2 separate regions of the Homo sapiens genome follow, and region 1 is linked to region 2. The links come from fine-mapping of genetic effects on gene expression. Tissue or cell type: whole blood. Region 2 holds a variant in brackets; the other region holds the start of a gene. All regions are shown on one strand. Distances are between the middles of the regions.

Region 1 (8,091 bases), 24 kb after region 2:
TCATAATTGTTACGTTAAAATTATTGTGTGCTACAGAGGAGAGGTATCAAATTTCCTTGTCAATTGTGTCTTTGCCTATGGCTGCCCTAAAACTTTTAGTCATCCACGCACAATTGTTGTGTTGTTTTGGTCCTCTTTAGAAAGTGTTTTTTTTTGTTGTTGCTGTTGTTGTTTTTTGAGATTCATTATTTATTCTTGATAATGTTTTCTTTGTTAAATTTGTTTTTTTAAATTATACTTTAAGTTCTAGGGTACATGTGCACAACGTGCAGTTTTGTTACATATGTATACATGTGCCATGTTGGTTTGCTGCACCCATTAATTCGTCATTTACATTAGGTATTTCTCCTAGTGCTATCCCTCCCCCATCCCCCCACCCCACGACAGGCCCCAGTGTGTGATGTTCCCTGCCCTGTGTCCAAATGTTCTCATTGTTCAATTCCCAACTATGAGTGAGAACATGCGGTATTTGGTTTTCTGTCCTTGTGATAGTTTGCTGAGAATGATGGTTTCCAGCTTCATCCATGTCCCTACAAAGGACATGAACTCATCCTTTTTTATGGCTGCATAGTATTCCATCGTGTATATGTGTCATTTTTTCTTAATCCAGTCTATCATTGATGGACATTTGGGTTGGTTCCAAGTCTTTGCTATGGTGAATAGTGCTGCAATAAACATACATGTGCATGTGTCTTTATCGTAGCATGATTTATAATCCTTTGGGTATATACCCAGTAATGGGATGGCTGGGTCAAATGGTATTTCTAGTTCTAGATCCTTGAGGAATCACCACAGTGTCTTCCACAATGGTTGACCTAGTTTACACTCCCACCAACAGTGTAAAAACGTAACTATTCCTCCACATCCTCTCCAGCACCTGTTGTTTCCTCTTGAATGCAGGTCTCCATTAACTTTGGAGATTGTTACATGAGAATAGAGGAAAAACTTTCAGAACTCATGGAGAGCTAAAATGCTCATGAATATCAAGCAGAATAGGAATTAACTAAGGGGACTGAACTAATCTTTTTGACTTTTTGCTTAAACATTGCTGATCTTTTGCTTTGTTTTTCAGAGCCTTGAAACTTTTCTTTTGAGCTATTGACAGCTTTTAACAATTTAGTATACTCCAATCAACAAAATTTGGAGCATATTTGTTTCTCTCTACCTGATTTCTCCAGAATTTGTAAACTATTTGTGAGTATTCTTAACTTGTGCCAATACAGTTATTTGCATAAGTGCAGTAAGAATCTGTTTTCATTTGTAACAGGACACAGTTGGAGAAACTGATTATTTTACCAAGGCTTTGAGTGGAAAGGTGTACTTTCCTTTAAGTAATCAAACCTGACTTATGGAGCCAATAAAAGCCCTTGGGAAAACTGGCCTCACACTTTACAAAGTCCCTGTACAGGGTTTCTGATATGTGCTAAGTAAAGAATGTCATTTTCTGACAGGTCCAGGAGCCCCTGGTTTATCATGGAACATCAAAAAGAGGAAATTCACCCTACTCATAGGTATTTGATGGTACAAATCCATGGCTGAGCTTGGCTTTAAAAAGAATCTTATCTGAGATTCCTTCTATGGAACAAAGTTCCTTCAAAGCCAATTTTAAAAAGCCTATGTGAAAAATAATTATTCTTGCTACACTTTATATAAATAATCTGGTCAAATATAATAAAGCAAATCAGTCCTACCATGATTTGTCTTTAGTAAAAATGGAAAACTGGAGAGAGAAAAATTGTTTCAAAACTTACAGTCCACTTGTTGTTAGATACTAGTCTTGCCTAATTTTTTCAATTTTTATTATTTTCTACAGTTTAGGCTGAATTCTAATTTTTCCTGGCTACAAGTCTCCAAAATAATATTTTTAATTTTTTTCTTTTCTTTTCCTTTTTTTTCCTAATTAGGAGTCACTGAAAACAGCTGTGCTTTTGTAAAGCCCTGCAAACTGAAGCTAGACAACTTAAACTTCAGAAGAAAATAACAGCAACCTATTTACACGCATAAGCCACTTTCATACCTGCCTACTGATGTATGGACTTCAGAATAACGTGGCCTATGTATATTTTCCAGGATTGTTCTTTTGTTTGTTGTTTTTCACCCTTCCTCCCCCTATTTTCTCTTCACAAGACATGGGAGTTCACAGCCTTCTAAAAATTAGCTTTCCTAATAACTTGGGACTTACCTGTCTAGGAATAAACCATCCTAGCATGAGCGATCAGATGAAATCTGGGACCAAAGACTCATTTTTCTTCTAAAATGCTTTCTCCAAAAAAAAATTTTTTTTAAAAAAAAGAAAAGGGGGCAAATGTAAAGGAAAATATCTTGGGCCCCCAAATCACTAAGTTAAAAGGAAAATTCAAGCTAGGAACTACTTAAGACAAACTTGCCTCCCATTCTATTCAAAGTCATCCCTCTGCTCATTGAGATAAATGTGTATCTGACTGCCTCCTTAGGAAAGGTAAATCAGAAACTCAAAAGAATGCAACCATTTGTCTCCCACCTACCCGTGACCTGGAAGCCCCCTTCCCGCTTCAAGTTGTCCCGCCTTTCCGAACCCAACCAGTGTTCATTTTACATATATTGATTGATGTCTTATATGTCCCTAAAACGCATAAAACCAAGCTGTGCTCTGACCACCTTGGGCACATGTTGTCAGGACCTCCTGAGGCTGTGTCACTGCGTGCGCATCCTCAACCTTGGCAAAATAAACTTTCTAAATTAACTGATACCTGTCTCAAATTTTTGGGGTTCACAAGGTTTAGTTATAAATGCTTCTTATGGAGCATGATTTTCTTACAAGCGAGGCAGGAGAATCGGATCTGGAGGCAGGGAACCTAGGGCTGTTTCACGCTGACTTCCTAGAACTAAATTGAAAGTAAAACCCTAACTTCCCACACCAAGTAACAAAAGAACCAGAGGCTTCTCCCTTTCCAAACCCCCACCTTTTCTGTGTGGCAGATGGGAAATTGAAAGTACCTCTGATTGGTTGCAAAAAGCAAAATTACGCTAAGAAGTAAGTTATCCCTTAAAAAAAATTATTCTTTCTGCAACCAATCAGATCTTCCCATAGGAGTGTAACTATGTAACTTCACCATCTGATTGCACGCCACGTCTTCGTTTGCATATAAGGGCAACTTTGTAACTTCACTTTAGCCTTTCATTGGTTGCTTTTCACAGCCAATTGTGGGTCACCACTTCATTTACATGAGATGAGTACCAAGTGGCCAATAGGAGACTTCAATGGGGTATTAGGGCCCCTGAGCTGCTGCTCCACACCCCAAACACAGGAGTGTCCTTTCATTTTCAGTAAATCCCTGCTTTTGGCGGGGCATGGTGGCTCATGCCTGTAATCCCAGCACTTCGGGAGGCCAAGGCAGGTGGATCACCTGAGGTCAGCAGTTTGAGACCAGCCTGACCAACATGATGAAACCCTGTCTCTAATAAAAATAAAGAATTAGCCAGGCTTGGTGGCGCATGCCTGTAATCATCCCAGCTACTTGGAAGGCTGAGGCATGAGAATCACTTGAACCCAGGAGGCGGAGGTTGCAGTGAGCCGAGATCGTGTCACTGCACTCCCGCATGGGCAACAGAGCAAGACTCCATCTCAAAACAACAACAACAACAAACACCTTCAAGGTCTGGCGTGGCGGCTCACACCAGTAATCCCAGCACTTTGGGAGGCGGAGGCAGGCGTTTCACCTGAGGTCGGGAGTTCGAGAGCAGCCTGACCAACATGGAGAAACCCTGTCTCTACTAAAAGTACAATATTAGCTGGGCATGGTGGCGCATGCCTGTAATCCCAGCCACTCGGGAGGCTGAGTGAGGCAGGAGAATTGTTTGAACCAGGGAGGTGGAGGTTGCAGTGAGCCGAGATCGCGCCATTGCACTCCAGCCTAGGCAACAAGGGCGAAACCTCATCCTAAAAAAACAAAAACAAACAAACACCTTCGGGCTTTGTGAGTGCTGGTCTCAGAAAAGCACTCAGTCTTCCTCCAAGGGCTAACTTACTTCTTCAGGAGTTGGGTGCCTTTGAGAAATTTCCCAAACCACTACAGAGGAACAACTTCTCCCTTCGTTCACCACTCTACCAAGCACTTGGCTTTTGTACCTTATTGCAATTATTTATCTTCTAATCTTCTAGAGCCTAGAGAATTAGACTGTAATGTGCCTTAAATGCAGAGGTTTCTCTTACTCTTCTCTGGAGCAATGCAGACGTTTGTTGGTTGAAGGATCAAACTCCAAAGTCCCTCCCAGCCTTGGAACTGTCTCCACGAGTCATAACCATACTTATCTATGTTTAGATAGAGAACTTACGCGTTCGACCCAGCATATTTAGGGGCTCCATTAAAGTAATAATCATTATTACTAAGGTGAATTTACAGGCGTACTAGAACACAACCTAACAAGAGATAATTATTCAAAGCTCACAACGGCACCAAGCACGGTGCTTTCTTTTCCTTCATTAGAAGCCACGGCTTCTCCCCTACCTTTCCCATACCTTTCCCAAAACTCTCTCAAAATTGCGAGCCTTGGTCATGGCCTTTATCACCTCCCGCAGAGACTGAGTCATGCTGGTCATCGTGGACGGTTTTCCAGCCTTTGGGCTTTGCGCAAGAACGAACTTCGGAAGAGCTGGAAAGTCCAGAAGTTAGTGAAAGAAGGAGGACACAAAGGGCGAAGAGCCCGCACCCTTCTCCGCCCCTAGGAGCGCAAGAGGCCGGGAGTCAGGCGAGCTGGCAGCCCCGGTGGTCCGCGATTTGCTCACTGACTTTCCTCGCACCCTTGTGACGAAGCGCGCATGCGCGCTTCGCACCCACCGCCCCGGCGGCTCCCTTGCGGCGCAGCTGCACCAGTTTTCCGAGAGCAGCGCATTTCCCCGCCGGGCGGTTGATGCGGGAGCGCCATGACACAGGCGCCTGCGCAGAGCCGCGCGTTGGCCTCCTGTTCCGCTTAAAGGGGCGGTGCAGAGGCGGCAGGAAGATGGAGTTGGGGAGTTGCCTGGAGGGCGGGAGGGAGGCGGCGGAGGAAGAGGGCGAGCCTGAGGTGAAAAAGCGGCGACTTCTGTGTGTGGAGTTTGCCTCGGTCGCAAGCTGCGATGCCGCAGTGGCTCAGTGCTTCCTGGCCGAGAACGACTGGGAGATGGAAGTACGCTTTCGCTGTCCTCGCTTCCGGCTCCATTACCTAGGTCGGTGGAGCGCACAAACCTCATCCCTTGTGCCTTTGTTTTTCAGAGGGCTCTGAACTCCTACTTCGAGCCTCCGGTGGAGGAGAGCGCCTTGGAACGCCGACCTGAAACCATCTCTGAGCCCAAGACCTAGTAAGTGATGAGGGGAGCGGGAGCCAGTCCGCACGGAGGCAGTTTGATACCAGGTAGCCCTGCGCGTCCTGGGACCTGCCGTGGAGCTGGGCGGACGATGCTGAGGCAGATCTCCAAGCTGCGTAGCCAGAGGAGCAGGGCTTGCGTTGCTGCTGCTGCGCGGAGTTGCGCCCCAGCAGCGGATCTAACACTGCACCAGACTGTCGCTTCGAACGTGATTTGGGGTCCAGGGAGGAAAAGATGGAAATGTAATGTTTAACTCAAATGAAAGGAAATAAGTAAGCGAGAGGTTTGAAACAAATGAACGAAGGCTAAACCTTCTATCGAAAAATGGCAACTTGGAAGTCTCCTTGCTTCCTGTATTGTTTATTTATTCTAGGCCCTAGGCTGACCGGCCAGAATAACAGGTTTGTTGTTGTTGTTATTTTTTTTTAATGCACACCTACTCCTGTTATTTCAGTGCCCCTCTCCAGTTCCTGCACTTAAAAAGTGTAGCTGCCTTACAAGGCCCTCTACTATTTGGCTCCATAACTTAGAACCTGCCTTTCCAGGTTCCAGGCCTATCAAACTTTTACTTTTTTCCAACGGGTCATTTTCTCCTGTCTTTGAAACTTCGTAAAGATCTTTATTACCTGTGCCTGGAATTTTTTTCTTTTCCCTTCCTTGCTAATATTTGTCTTAAAGCCCCAAGCTGAGACATGATTTATCTCTAGGAAGCTTTTCCTGATGTCCTAAGTCTGGGTAAGAGTCCCCTTTTAGGTACTCTTATAGCATCCTGCATGACCCCTGTTACAATACCTTAGTCCGTATTATAATTGCTGTTCATTATTTTATGTCTCCTACTAGACTGCACATCTAGTAAGGAGTATCTGTTTTGTACATTGTTAATTTCCCAAAGTCTGACACAACATTTGACACATAATAAGCTCCCAATAAATATTTACTGAATGTATAAAATTCTCCCAGCTATATGTACAACCTGTAAAATTGACTGTTCATAGTGGAGACTTTATTTTCCCTTTGGTCTTTTCAGCTACACTGGCTTACAGATGTGATAAGATATTTTCTTTAGGTTCCTTTCTCTGTCTTGCCTCTTGTTGGGGAATTGTTTACTCACCCACAGTGATTTGTCTCTGGCTCCCGTTTTACTAACCAGAGCAAGTTGGACTAGGAGGTGTTTGCCTAGCTCAAACTGGCCAGTCAGATCCTCTCCTTGGTTTCAGAATTAGGACCAAGAGAGTCAAGTCTGAGTCTTCCTATGGAGCTGGAACTGTAACATGTTAACTTAGCACCTGTGAGGATTCATACATATCTTTTTTTGTGTACAGAGAAGCTGAGAACAGAGGTCTGCAGAGAGACAATGAAGCAGAGGGAAGTTGAAGTGTAGGATTGAGAGAAAGCCCTTAACTGCCCTTCCTTAAACATGGCTGTATTTCTGTACCAGGCTCTGTGACATGTTTGTTTCCTTATAAATTCTCCTGTTTTGGTCAAACCAACCTGAGTTAATGTCTGTTGGTTGCAACAGACTATATTGTAACCAATAAATAGTAACAAAATAAGTGGATTTCCTGTAATAGGCCCTCAGAAAAGATGCGGATCAAGCTGATCAATGGTGTCATGGCTATTAGGATTCTCTTACCCCGGAATGGTAAATTGGCAAAAACAAGCAAAGGTGTTGATTAGGCTGTGGTCTCTTGTCTCTCAGAACTCAGGTCAAGTATGAATGAGAGTGAGGTTTTAAAGTTTAGTTTGCTCAAGAGAGAAAAATGGGGAAGGGGCAAACTTCAGCGTGTTTCTAAGGCCTGTGACCTGATTAGATTTTTGATGTTGGCTTTAGCAAAAATGAAAGGGAAAAAAAAATTGATTGGAAGATTTTATGACCAGAAAAACTCAACCCTGCTGAGCAAGGGCATTGGCTGTCTTAAATGAATGGCGCAGGAATCTCAATTCTGGAGTGAATTCCTGGGATATCAACAAAAATTGAAATTGAACACTAAAGTGATTTAGTCCCCTACATTAGAATCTATCTTCAGTGTCTCTGATGAGAGACAAGGGAAATCCTCTTAAAACAGCTATGCTGAATCTTAGCTGCATATTGGAATTATCTGGGGAATTTAAAAAAAAAACCAGAGATTCTAATTTCATTAGTCTTGAGTGGGGCCCATTATTCCTTATTGGCTTTTTTTTTTTTTTTTATTAGCTGTGCAGGTAATTCTAATGCAGAGCCAGCATTGAAAGCCCGTGTCCCAGAGCCTTGTTATTTAGAGTGTGGACTCTGGACCAGCAGCGTGCCACTGCTACTCGGGAATTTGTTAGACATGCAGAATCTTAGGTCTCACCCAGACCTACTGAATCAGAATCTGTATTTTGACAAGATCTCCAGGTGATTTAAAATTGAGGAGCACTGGCCTAACACATAAAACCTAAGACACCAGATATACTGACAAAAGCACTTCCTCCTCTGCTTAGGAATGAAGTCAACAAATCATGCCCCTAAAGTTTGCCAGTCCCTTTCTGTTCCCTTAGTATTTCTGTACAGCAACGTTTTAGAGTTTATTTCCCTTTTCATTTTTCCAAAAGGAAATTTTTAATACAGTTGCCTGGTTTTTCTTGCTGCATTAAATATTAAATATTGTGGGTGTTGCATAAATTGCAGAGATATTTGTATTAGGTTCTTGTGTTGCTATAAATACCTGAGACTGGGTAATTTATAAAGAAAAGAGATTTAATTGGCTAACAGTTCTGCAGGCTCTACTGGAAGCATGGCCCCAGCC
Region 2 (8,095 bases):
GAAGTTTAATCCCTGCTCTTAGCGGGTTCAGTGTCTAAAGGAAGAGACAAGTACAAAAACTGCAGAGGAAGAAACTGTTGTAGACAGAATAAATACAGGTTTCTTGGAGTAAAGATATCTAACTTTTAAAAATGTATATTTCCAGGGAAAAGACATTAGGAAAGGCTTCCTGGAGAACGACATCTGAGTCTTGAAGAACAGGCAGGAGTTATCCAGGTGAAGATAAGGGAAAAAGCCAGGCAGTTGAAGAAATAGAACTAAATACGAGCGGCTTGTAGACAGCAAAGGTAGTTTTAATGTGTTGTTTTTGTTTTTGTTTTTTGAGACAGAGTCTCGCTCTGTCACCCAGGCTGGAGTGCAGTGGTGTAATCTCGGCTCACTGCGACCTCTGCATCCCAGGTTCAAGTGATTCTCCTGCCTCAGCCTCCTGAGTAGATGGGACTACAGGTGCGTGCCACCATGCCTGGCTAATTTTTGTATTTTTAGTAGAGATGGGGTTTTGCCATGTTAGCCAGGTTGGTCTTGAACTCTTGACCTCAGGTGATCCACCCACCTCGGCCTCCCAAAATGCTGGGATTACAGGCATGAGCCACCGCGCCTCAGTTTAAGTGTATTTTAAGGCACAGTTTGTTCAGTAAAGCTTAGTTCTTAAAGTTCCATTTGATTACCTAACTTTGGCTGGGATGACAAAATGTAAGACAAATGTCAGTTAGATTTTTCTAGTACAGAATACTGGTTTTGATTTTTCCCCCCAACTTGAAAGGCCAAAGGACATACTAATAAAATTGTTTTAAAATTTACATTGGAATAGAGAGAATTTTTTACTGGGCAGCCTGATATGGCAATATAAATGCCTTTATATGTTCTCAATTCTTGTCTCCTCAGGTCAAATAAGAGAATTAAACCAACGGAAGATGATGAAGGAATGTCCTGCCCACCCTCCCAGAGCTAATAAGTAGTCTTGCTGGGGAAGAGGCCAATGCAAAGCTAACTTCTTTCTGATGAGGAAGGGGAGTAGGGAGAGAACCTTGTGAAAAAAACATCTCAGCCTTGGTAAAGATGGGCTGTAGGGCACACACTTGTTTATTCAGTTATATCAACATAGCTAACTCCATGTTAGAGACCATGCTGAGCAATTTGACATGTGCTGTCTCAGTGCTGCCAATGTTTGAAGTGAATACTATTGTCTCCATTTTACAGATGAGAAACTGTCGAAAAGTTTAACTAGGATGTCTCAGGTTTAACCATTATGCAAAACAGCCTACCCTCAAATATCACCTGGACTGCTACAGACAACTGGGTTCTGATTCCTTAGGTGTCTTGGTGAAGATGGTATGGAGGCTTTTATGATGTCAAGGGGTCAAAAATTTACCTGCCATGGCCTAACAATACAGAGAACTGTCCAGATGTGTTCAGTCCCAGGATCCTGCAGGTTGGACAATTGCAGTAGGTTGGCAAGAACTTTTATGGCTCAGCACTATTTGCCACAATGGGCTCCTCAGTATATCATAACAATTCTTACATGTACACACACATATACAATAATCTGTCCCTTTTATATATGGCCTTATATCGTGCTGTCTCTTCCTTGCACTTCATGCATTCATATGAGTTTATGCAACTTCGTCTGTGTAATCCCAGCACTTTGGGAGGCCGAGGCAGGCAGATCACTTGAGGTCAGTAGTTCAAGACCAGCCTGGCCAACATGGTGAAACCCTGTATCTACTAAAAATACAAAAATCAGCCAAGCATGATGGGGCACACGTATAATCCCAACTACTTGGGAGGCTGAGGCAGGAGAATCCCTTGAGCCTGGGAGGTGGAAGTGGAGGTTAGCCGAGTTCGCACCACTGCACTCCAGCCTAGGCGACAGAGTGAGACTCCGTCTCAAAAAAAAAAAAAAAGACTCAGGTTGCCATAGCCCCTCACCCTCCCTCTCCCATCTGAGATACAATTCATCACAAAGAGACACTCCACATGACACAGAGTCTCTCCTTTCCTCACTTTTTCAGCAAAGATAGATAGGGAGAAGGGCTGCCTAATAACAGCAGTGAAGATGCTGTTATTCATCACTGAGATGGTCCTTTATGAAGCTGAGAACCAAGAATTCTCTTTAAGCCTTGGCATCTCAGATCATTCTGGTCTTTTTTTAAAAGGGTTGCATTCTGCTGAGCAGTGGGATAAACAAGCCACTGCCATCACTGTAACTGCTGCTGGCTGCTATGCAGCTCACCACCACTGCCTCCACTGCCTCTGCTAAACAGATAAAGGAATGTATGTCTCTGGCTCAGTAAGGGTGTCTGTAATGGGCCTCAAGCACAGGAGTGTGACATATGGTATGAGAAAATCTGTGTACATAAACACGTGAGCCACCCCCAAAAGAAGACTGTCTACAGAAGCACAAAGAAAAACAGACAATCTTAATGGATGACAATTTTGTATGTGTATATTTGTGAATAAGGCTGTTTTCAAGCAATTTTCCCTGACCATGGATGTTGCTAACTTTGTGTGTGACACTGCAGATGACAGGAGGTGTGTCTAAGGACAGTGTATGAATGCACCTTCATATAAGCAGGAAAGGAGGTAAAAAGACAGGATGTGGCAGTGTGATGGGGTAGCAACAGCAACAAACACAGATGACATTTATGTTCAAGGGGCTCTAGAAAGGTAGATGCTATAAAAGTACCATGGTTCAACCATATTGCTGTTATCAGTCCAGCATTTCTGCTTTATAATGTATGTTTCAGTAGCTTCATTACACAGGTGGCTTCCGCTTAATGGTTGAGAGTACTGGCTCTGGAAGCAGACTTAGGCAAGACCCTGAACTGAGGTTTCCCCATTGATAGAGATAATGTACTGTACTGCCCTTATAGGGTTTTGTAAAAATTAAGATTAAAATTCAAATTAGGACAAGGCCTGGTATATCACAGGTGATCAAAACATTTTAATTTTGGGAGACTGAGGTGGGAGGATTGCTTGAGCCCAGGAGTTTGAGACCAGCCTGGGCAACACAGCAAGACCCCAACTCTAGAAAAATTTTTTAAAATTAGCCAGGCATGGTGGCATGTGCCTGCAGTCCCAGCTCCGAGGGAAGCTGGGGTGGGGAGGATCGCTTGAGCCCAAGAGGTCAAGGTTACAGTAAGCTGTGATCGTGCCACTGCACTACAGCTTGGCTGACAGAGTGAGACCCTGTCCCCAAAACAACACCACTTTAATTTGCATCCTTATTATAAAAACTATTATCAAACAGAAACTTTGGTTTGTATAGTTTGGCATGAATTTTCTTAAAATTATTTCTATTGCCGAGGTCAACTATGACCTAACTACAAAACTCAAAGGACCCTTGGCAGCCTCTCTTTCCCTTAAGTGACCTCTCAGCATTTGGTGACGTCGTGAACTTTTCCTAGCCTTCCCTTAACTCCCATGACACCACCTCCTCCTGGTTTTCCTCCTACTCTCCCAGCCACTCCCCAGTCTCCTTTGCTGGCTCTTAAGTCTTAGAGTTAACTAGTCGTTCAAAGACCAGACTTGATACTGGACTCACTCAGAAGGATATAGGATATATTTCTCTCCTGAGCTGTTGCAACTGACTTCCAATTTATCTCCCTATTTCTGCCCTTGCCACCATCCCCATGTTTAGTCTCAATAGTAGCTACAAGAATGCTCCTTTGAAAATATAGACTGCTTGACAGAAAACAACAGTGCAAAAGTGATATGCCTTCAGCATGATCCTTGACTTTATGTTCAGATGAAACTATTGTTAAGTTGAAAGTATCTCAATTTATGATGGGCTTATCCCAATGCGACCTCATCGTAAGTCAAAGAGCAGCTGTAGAAGTCAAATTATGTTACTCATCTGCTTAAAACCCTCTCTA[A/G]TGGGGCCCTCAAACAATGGAAAGCACAGCAATGGAAAGTCTGAGGGCCTTTACACCTTCTGTTCCCCTTCCTGGAACACTCTCCTCCTTCAGTATTCATGACTTTCTCAGGTCTTTATTGAAACGTCACTGTTTCAGTGATATCTTTCCAGATAAGATTTAAAATTGAATTCTTAAAAAAAGAACTTACAGGAATACACATCTTGGGGCAGGGTGGGGGGTGGATTTAAGTTCTCCTGCACCAATACTCTCTATCTTCCACCTTTATTTTCCTTTATAGCAATTATCACCATCTAACATACTATATATTCTCTTTACCTATTTTGTTTAGTGTTTGATTTGCTCCACTAAAATAGAACTTCCATTGCGTGCAGGCGTTTTTGTCAGTTGTGTTCACTGATGTATCTCCAGTACCTAGACTAGGAATGTTTTAGTAGCTAAATACATTCCTAAAGGAATGTATGTCTCTGGCTCAGTAAGGGTGTAGGCACATAGTAGGCACTCAAATATTTGTTGAGTGAATGAATACACTGAAACCTGAAGGTCAACAAGGAGCATTCTATAACAATATGCCCAATATTTAGTGGCTTCAGCAACTAACTGAACAAACTATGGGGAGAATCTTCTATGTAAAAGGCATTCAACTGGGCACCTTCCACTAGGCACTAAAGTTCCCTTTGACAAATGGTTATTAAGCATATGGACTTGGCTCCCAAGGAAAAAGTATAGAGGGAAGACAAACAAATCAGCAGATATTTTCAATAATATACAGAAAGTTCTATAACAAAAGTTAGTCAAGGTGTAGAAGTAGATCAGAGGAAGACATTTGGGGCTGCCAGGGAAGCCTTCTCAGAGATAGCAGGTGTCACCTGCAAAGGACTTTGAAGGATAAGTGAAAATGGCAGGCAAATGGGGCAAGGGTAGAGGATCCAAAGGTGAGTACGATGTTGCCCTAATCCTCAGGGAGTGTACAAAACAGCAAGGGTTATAAGAGAAGGCCAAAAATAACAAGAGTTGGCAAACTAATGCCATGGGAAGCAAAACAAAGCCCTAGGGAAGAGCAAACAGGAATTAAATTAAATATTCCCTGAAGGTTAGTTAGCTAAGCTTAAGTAACACTCTTTTTGTTCACTGAGATAGTGGTGGTGGTGACAGATATGCTACAAAAGAATAAAAACAATTACTATCCCACTAAAACAAAGTTTAATGATTAAAAAAGAAATCACTATATTTTTCTTCCCCAAAGGCTGGTAAGTGGCAGATTTTATTGAATCATTCTGGAATGCCTATAAAGGTGGGTGCTCTGAAGGCCTCTATCACATGGATCTTATTGGCAAGACTTCTCTGATACACAGGTTCTCTACTGCCTTGAACCTGGGAAAAGGGGGCTGACAGGGAAGGAGCCTTTCTTATCCTGTCTTCCATAGATTGAGGATTTGGGAAATGCTTGTTCACACTTCCAGTTCTCCTTTAAAGAGGGAAAGCGCAAATTGTGTAGAATTTTTGCAATTGAGCTTCAGTTTGGAATCTAGTACGGTAGTTCCCAGGAGGGGATGATGCTCTGAAGGAATGCAAATCTGGCAAATCAAGGCCAGGGGAACAGCCCATTAGTCATACAAAACAAAACAGGCACAAAGAAGTTTAAATCATCTCTGTTCACTTTGTATGCTACAAAGTCCTGGAACTCCTAGGATGGCCAAGTAAAAACTACAGTTTTTTCTTAGTGCTGTTTTTAATTCAGCAGTAGCTCAGAGGATCTACATAGAAAGAACTAAATCTTGACTATGTTCCATGGCAGAGAAAATGTATTCATCATTTCTCTTGAAATTGGTCATCCATTCACTACTGCTAAAATTAATTAATTTTATAAAATACTTATATTTGCTGTGAGTTTATGCCACATTCCTTTCCTCTAAAATATGAATAACTCTTGAGTTCATTACTTCACTAATTGTATGCTGATTCCTTCAATCCTATCTCTGCGCCATCTAACTTACTGTTTTTATTAGATTTTTAATTATAAAAATAAAAACATTCATTTTACATATATAAAGCAGCATAGAAGTACAATTTCCTACCTACTACTCTTTCGGTGCTGAATATCATTCTATACCATTCCCTAGGCTTACTCATATATACACAGGGTATACAAAATTTTCTTAAAGGGTGTTTTTCTTGCCTTTTATTCAATTACAAAAATGGGATCATATTATATACATTACTTGGCAGCTTTCATTTTTCTCTTCCCAATGTATCACAGTCATTTCTCTAGCTCAATTTATTTATTTTTAATTTTTTTAGAGATGGGGTCTCTCTATTTTGCCCAGGCTGGACTCAAACTCCTGGGCTTAAGTGACCCAAAAGGAGAAGGCACGCCACCATGCGCAGCCTCCAGCCCAATGTATATAGATCTCTTTCAATAGCTGTGTGGTATTCCCTACTATGAATATACTACAATTTATCAAACTATTTCTTAAAATGTGTTATTTCTATATTTTTTTTACCATCACAAAGATGCTTTATTTGTATATGACAGACTGACAAAATTAGATAGCTGGGTATTAAGAGTATATATTTTAAAGTTTGTTTTTTTTTTGAGACGGAGTCTTTTTCTCGTTGCCCAGGCTGGAGTGCAGTGGCACAATCTCAGCTCACTGTAGCCTCCACCTCCTAGGTTCAAAGATGCATATTACCTTAATTTTTACACTCTGACAAGCAAAACATAGTATCTCATGGTTTTAATTTGCATTAGCCAGACTCACAGTGCTTTTAAGCATCCTTTAATGTTTATTGCCTTTTTTCTGTGAACAGCCTATTTATGTCTTTTGTGCCTACTTACCTATTACAGTCTGTCTCTACAGTTCTTTTTACCTATCAGATTTTAACACCAATTCATATGGTGAAATTCCAGACCGTTGTATTTTGACTTTTATTGTATCTCTCGCCATAAAAAGATGAGTTCAGATGAACAAAGTGCATAGTGCCTGACACATAGTGCTATGTAGATGTTTTTAAAAATAAACAATTGAAATTTCTAAGTTTTTAAGGTGCACATCATTTAATGACATGCTCCTGTTAGTAAGTCATTTTTAAGATGTGACTTATAGTAACACAGGACTCAGTCACATGCAGTTGCTGTGATTTCTTTTACTAATTCTCCCATGGTTGGACATTTAGGTTATTTCCCCTCACACAATTTTTTTTTTTTTTTTTTTTGAGACAGGGTCTCACTTTGTTGTCCAGGCTGGAGTGCAGTGGCATGATCATAGCTCACTGCAGCCTCGACCTCCTGGGCTCAAGGGTTCCTCTCACCTTAGCCTCCTGCACAGCTGGGGCCACAGGCACACACCACCACACCTGGTTAATTTTTTTATTTTTTTGTAGAGATGGGATCTCATTTTGTTGCCTAGGCTGGTCTCAAACTCCTGGGCTCAAGCTATCCTACTGCCTTCACCTCCTAAAGTGTTGGGATTACAGGCATGAGCCACCATGCCCAGCTATTTCCCACTTTTGATATCACAAATAATGCTGCAACAAATTTTTTTGTGCATAGATCTTTGAAAAAAAAATGCCTTATTTTGTCTTGTGTATTGCTTATACATAAGACAGTTTTAATGACCAATGAACTTGAAAATATCTATTTGTGTATCATGTTGATCAATTTTGAATATCACTGCCCTTTTGTAGTCAGTCCAAAATCTATAAGTTTTTCTATTAATAGTAAGTATAAGATCTATTCTTCTGGCTGGGTGCGGTGGCTCACACCTGTAATCCTAGCACTTTGGGAGGCTGAGGCAGGAGGATCACTTGAGGTCAGGAGTTTGAGACCAGCCTCGCCAATACGGTGAAACCCCCATCTCTGCTAAAAATACACAAATTAGCCAGGCATGGTGGCGCGTGCCTGTAATCCCAGCTGCTCTGGAGGCTGAAGCAGGAGAAATACTTGAACCTGGGAGGCAGAGGTTGCAGTTGAGCCAAGATCGTACCATTGTACTCCAGCCTGGGCAATAAAGTGAGACTCTGTCTCAAAAAAAAAAAAAAAAAAAAAAATTCTATTCTTACCTTTCTAACCATTTCTGTCTTCTTTACATGCTTTCTTTCTCTCAAGCCTGTATGTCTTTAAGGTTCAGTCCTAAATCTTTACTGCTTCTCTCCAGTGTGTTCCTCCTCTTGACATCTCATTCAGGTATTCACCTTCATCACTCATTTCCATAAAGATG

The links. PIP is the estimated chance that this variant, and not a neighbour inherited with it, causes the effect.
Region 1: it holds the start of ACOT13, and the variant in region 2 is fine-mapped to the expression of ACOT13 in whole blood (TOPMed, PIP above 0.99).

Annotation. Positions count from the first base shown.
Region 1 is chr6:24,663,752-24,671,842 of GRCh38, reverse strand. ACOT13 (acyl-CoA thioesterase 13) reads right to left here and starts at 4,766. Exons shown (of 3, transcript NM_018473.4): 1 at 4,499-4,766. The coding sequence starts at 4,579. It overlaps TDP2 (tyrosyl-DNA phosphodiesterase 2), which reads left to right and starts at 4,944. Exons shown (of 7, transcript NM_016614.3): 1 at 4,944-5,145; 2 at 5,232-5,317. The coding sequence starts at 4,981. It overlaps LOC124901279 (a long non-coding RNA gene), which reads left to right. Exons shown (of 2, transcript XR_007059509.1): 1 at 1-1,194; 2 at 1,905-2,726. RefSeq lists enhancers at 4,728-5,022, 4,554-5,225, 5,226-5,898.
Region 2 is chr6:24,687,536-24,695,630 of GRCh38, reverse strand. All of the region lies in intron 1 of ACOT13 (acyl-CoA thioesterase 13), which reads right to left. It overlaps LOC124901278 (a long non-coding RNA gene), which reads left to right. Exons shown (of 2, transcript XR_007059508.1): 1 at 1-287; 2 at 886-5,924. Among named protein-coding and RNA genes, the nearest start is that of ACOT13, 25 kb to the right of the region's middle. The variant A/G (reference allele first, on the strand shown) is at 3,876.